Linked DNA regions of Homo sapiens: region 1 is linked to region 2. Evidence: fine-mapped expression QTL. Tissue or cell type: whole blood. Region 2 holds a variant in brackets; the other region holds the start of a gene. All regions are shown on one strand. Distances are between the middles of the regions.

Region 1 (2,620 bases), 49 kb before region 2:
TTTCTTACTTTGCACCTGAAAGAAGGTATTTTGGGGAAATATCAAACTATATAACAAGATATCATACAAGTATACAAAATAACAATTTATCGTACAGATGCCCCAAAGCCTGTAAGAAAGAAACTCCCTATTTTTTTAAAATAAAAATTCTATCACATTCTTAATAATCAGTGCTTTACCCTAGAGGTTGGGAGGCTTGGTCCTCTAATATTCTTCATGAAAATTAATACTTACTATTTAGCATGAAGATTAAATGTGTGAATAAGAGAAGCTCTATAGGTTCCAGAACTGTAGCATAGTAGAATATTACTCATATCAAGTATGGTCGGCTTTTCCCTCTGTAACAAGGCGTTTCTCTTCAAAGAAAACCTCATCCCAAGCCAATATTATTACTAAACTACCGAAACAGTCTTTTGTTTTTTAAGTTGGCAATTACTTGTAAGTGTTATACACCGAAACTTTACGTGAAAGGAGTACTACATTTCTCAACTCCAATTTTCCGTCCCTTCACCACCCCTATTCTGGACAGACCGGCTTTGAGCGCTTAGGTTACGGAGGGGCTGGGCTTCCGACCAAGGTGCAGCTGTAATTAAAGAGGCTGGGTTTCCGATCAAGGGACAACTCCATCTAACCTCCTCAATCCCCGTTCTCCAACCCCAAACAAGTTTGGTTTTGTCAGGAACAGCAATTCCCTGAGGAATGACACTCCTCTTCAATCCCCATCTGACCGCTCCACCACCGATCTGCCTTAGTTTCCACCCTTTTGAGCCCGACGTGGAGAAAGAGGAGGCGTCCCTGCACTCCTGGCCAAGAAGCCACCGTGGGGACCAGGAAGCAGGAAGTGACCTGCTGTCTCCATGGGGTTCCAGGGTTCCCCCGGCCGGCCAGGGGGCCAGAGCCGAATGTCTTGACCCAAATCCCGTCTTCTGCGCCCGCAGTCTGACAAAAAGTGAAAACACGGACTCGAACCCGAGGGCTCAGCCTCTGCCGGCCTGGGGGTTCCTCGGTCACCCAAACTGGTGCGAGGAGGCCGGCGGGGGATGGAACCAACGTACCTCCGGGGCCAGGCCGGACAGCTACTCTGGAGTCCAGGAAACCAACTGGAGAATCAGCCCGGAGGCGAGTCTGGCAGGGACGTTGGGAGAAGGCGCCCAAGAGCACTCACCACCTTCGCCGCGGTCCCCAGCCTCTTCCTGTCCCGGCCGGGCTCCCTCTCCGTGTTTTCCTTCGGCCCCACTTCCGGCGCTCAGCGCTGTCTCATTGTGCGCGATTGGGAGCCGACTGTGCCCCCGCCCTAGCGCTCCGCCGCGCACACCGGAAACGAGCGACGCGCCCCGCCCCGCGGTGCCCCGCCCACGCTCCGACCCCGCCTCCCGCGCCTTTGCCAGCCTGGCCTCTCCTGTCCGGCGCCCCAGCGCACTCGCTCCAGGTGTCGGGCGCCGGGTCTGGCCACCGGGCGCAACCGTCGGAGCGGGCTAATTACTGGCTCGCCGGATAGCCGGTTCGCCGGCGCTTGGGGGCCAGGCCCGAACTTCTTACCAGAGCGGCGCCCGCCCCTTTTCTCTCCCGGCTTCGACGCTCCTCTGGTTCCCCTCTCTGCTCGGGAGGCTAAGTGCTCGGGAGAGGCGCGGGAGCCAAGACTTATGCACCCGGAGAGGGACGCGGAGCCAGCGGTCGGGCAAAGCCGCATTCCCCGCGCTTGGGGCCTCGGCTTTGCCCCTGGGTGCTCCCCGGTTACTTCCAGGGGGAGTAAAGGCTCCGAGGCCTCGTAGCGCTCTTGGTGTTTTTCTGATAATTCGTAGTGATTAATGTTTTCGTGAATTCTTAATTGCCGACCTTGTAGAAATGCCAGCATTTAAACATCCACTGCTCACCCAGATCTCAAAGTGGTCAAGGAAAATGCTCTGCTTTTTTCTTAGGTTGTGTAAGGATTACTTTTACTTGGAAAAAAAAAAAATCAGTTCATTTCGAAGAATATGTGTAATGGCAAGGGATGACCAGAGAGCGTTACATTCGAATTTTTGAGTTGAAGAGTGCACACCTCGAACTCGGGGTTGCTTTTTCTTTCTTTACTGTATGACCTTCCTTGCTGTTTACAGTGTTCTAAATGCTTTGAAAAACATCAAGCAACTAGTGAAATTAGGGAGCGTTGGGAAAATCGACAGTTTTCATTTCTCTGCTTTTTTAAAGCATGTAAATTGAAAGCTGTCAGGTCCTGTGGAGCAATGGTCTTAAAATAATAACACACAAAGTTCTGGCTATGCCAATAACTGTTTTGAAGGCTTTACAAATATTAACTCCTTTGTTTTATATTTTTGTAGAGACAGGGGTCTCCTATGTTGCCCAGGCTGCTCTCCAATTCCTGACCTCAAGCCATCCGCCCAACTTGGCCTCCCAAAGTGTTGGGATTACAGGGGTGGTCCACCATACCCAGCCTTAACTTCTTTAATCCTCACAGCTTCATGAAGACTATATCATTATCCCACTTTTAAAGATGAGGACATTTAGCACTTGCAGTGAAGTAAATGGCACTGCTGCAATCCAGACCCTGAATATGAGGCTGTTATTAACCATGTGGCTATACTAAAAGTGATATAAAACACATTCCTACAACTTTTAT
Region 2 (2,760 bases):
GAGGCAGGAGAATCACTTGAAACTGGCAGAGGTTGTAACGTGAGCCGAGATTGCACCATTGCACTCCAGCCTGGGCAATGAGAGCAAAACTCTGTCTCAAACAAACAAACAAACAAACAAAAAAAGAAATAGAACTCCGGCTGTTTGATCAGTATTCTTCAAGTCACTAAAAATTAAACATTAAATTGTGAATTCACATCCTGGGTATTTACGTTTCAGTGGTAGTTCAGAATTTAGGGTTTTTCTTGTGTATTGATAGAAAACTCATTTTAAAAATACTGATTATGGCAATGCAGTTAGTAAGCTAAAATTTTTTCCTTCTATTACTTTTTGTCTTTTTTTAAATTTGAAGTGGAGTCGTGCTCTGTCACCCAGGCTGTCTGGAATGCAGTGGTGCAATCTCAGTTCACTGCAACCTCCACCTCCCGGGTTCAAGCGATCCTCCCACCTCAGCCTCCTGAGTAGCTGGGACTACAAGCACCCACCAGGTTTTTTGTTTTTTTTTAGTAGAGATGGGGTTTTGCCATGTTGCCCTGTCTGGTCTCTGACTCGTGAGCTCAAGTAATCCTCTTGCCTCGGCCTCGCAAAGTCCTTGGATTACAGGTGTGAGCCACTGTGCCCAACCTTCTAAGTTAATGATGTTAATTAAATATTTTTTCATTTGGGGCATGCCCAGCAACTCAGGGTAAGCCAAATTTATAGTTTATGGAGATGCTAAGTAAAGTGGAGACACAGTTTATGCATATGCAGAGGACTCATCTGCCATTTTCAGACTTTCTTGGGTGTTCCTATCAGTTTCCTGTCAGTGACTTCCTCTCTCCCTGATGGTAAAAACTAAACTTGGTAACGTGGTCTGCAGCCCCTGAGAAACCTGCTCCTTCCAACCTCCCGGCTTCATGCTGCTCATTCTCCCCAGCGTTCTTTTTGCCCTAAACACACATTGCATTCTTTCAGTCCTCCAACTTGCCACCCATATTCCTCTTCCTGGGGTGCTTTGCTCTATTTTCTTCACCTAGTTAAGGTCTCATCATTCAGTTCTCAGGCCAAGCATTGCTTATTTGTGGAAGAGGTCTCTGATCCCCCTG[G/A]CGAGGCCAGCTTCCCTGTTCATTCTCTCATTGCACCATGAGAGGGCTGCATAGCCCTCCTGACCACTGTCATTTTATAGACTTTTGTGCAGTGACTTGATTAGTGTCTGTCTTTCTCATTGGTGTGTGAATGCCAGGACTCTGGTTTTGCTCAACATGGGGTTCCACAGCCTGGCATAGTTCCTTTGCACATGGCAGGAGTTCAGCAAATATTGATGGGTGCATGACTTTGTTCATGGTTGTCTCTGTGCATCTGCACGGGGGTTCCCTCTGCTTGGCATGCCACTTACACACTGTCTCATCTCTAGATCTTTTTGCACCTTAATATTTTGAGCCTTTAGTAGAAATACATACAGTAGGTTCTCACTTAATGACCTCAATCGGTTCTTGGAAACTGTGACTTTAAGCAAAATGATGTGTGACAAAACCAATTTTTTTTAATCAACGTTATAATAAAACAATGTTGAACAAAACGATGCTATTTGAGGACCTGCTACACATAGTTCTGCTTAAAGTCGCAGTTTCCAAGAACCTATCAAAAACGTTAAGTGAGGACTTACTATGTGTTTAATCATATGATATTTTATGTAACCCAGCTAGCAGCTGAGGCCACATTGCCTTCTAGCTCTACTTCTGCCTGTATTTTTTCTGCTTTATGATCTGTCAACTTGGACACAAACCCCACTCATACTCTTAACCCACTTCCAAGCCTTTATGGGCTTAGTGGCTTTGGTGAGACTTTGAGGGGCTGTCTTCTTTATCACTGCATTGACTCTTCTTTTTTCTCTCTCTTTTAACTTTCTCTTTCCTTCAGTCTCTTCTTCCTCCTTCACTTCAGGAGTGTCACAGACATCTCACCCTTCTCAGGATAATTTTGTGGAAGCCACAGTGCCAGCCAACATCCATGACCCCATGGGTACCTCCCTGGCTGAAGTGGGCTGACCCAGGGTCTTTTCCCAACAATGATGGATCCTGTACAAGATGAATTCTGGTACCTGCTGCTAAAAGGATACAATTTCATTATTGTTATGGGCTGAATGTTGTGTACCTCCAAAATGGGTATGTTGAAATCCTAACCCCCAAGGTGATGGTATCAGGAGGTGGAGGCTTTGGGAGGTGATTAGGCAATGATGAAGAAGCCCTCTTGAATGGGATTAGTGCCCCTTTAGAAGGCACCCCATAGAACGCCCTCATTATGTGAGACACAGTGAGAAGAACCAGGAAGCAGGCCCTCACCAGACATGGAATCTATCAGTGTCTTGATCTGGGACACTCCAGCCTCCAGAACAGTAAGAAATAATAAGTTCCTGTTGTTTATAAGCCAACCAGTTTATGGTATTTTGTTATAAAAGCCAAAATAGACTAAGAACATTATGTTATATTAGAGTGATATCATATAACTGATCAAGTTTGGAGGATGTCCAGTGCCCTAGCCCATGCCGTCTGAGGAGAGGTTGATGAAGAGAATGATGAGAGGAAGTGAGAATAACTTTCTCACCTTTCCTGAGACACATTCCTCCTACCATGGTCCCATTACGGGGCCTTCCTACAATCACTTTCCAGCTTTCCCTTGTTTCCCTGTTTCTACCCTCAGACAAAGTAGTAGAATGATTACATTCTCAAGAGGTCCTGTGAGGATGCTTGGGCAAAATCAGACTCATGTCAGGCCATTTTA

The links. PIP is the estimated chance that this variant, and not a neighbour inherited with it, causes the effect.
Region 1: TUT7 starts here. The variant in region 2 is fine-mapped to the expression of TUT7 in whole blood (TOPMed, PIP above 0.99).

What each region holds. Positions count from the first base shown.
Region 1 is chr9:86,353,216-86,355,835 of GRCh38, forward strand. TUT7 (terminal uridylyl transferase 7) reads right to left here and starts at 1,195. Exons shown (of 27, transcript NM_024617.4): 1 at 1,056-1,195; 2 at 1-15. RefSeq lists an enhancer at 1,044-1,253 and a silencer at 1,274-1,453.
Region 2 is chr9:86,401,989-86,404,748 of GRCh38, forward strand. No RefSeq gene overlaps it. Among named protein-coding and RNA genes, the nearest start is that of TUT7, 49 kb to the left of the region's middle. The variant G/A (reference allele first, on the strand shown) is at 1,086.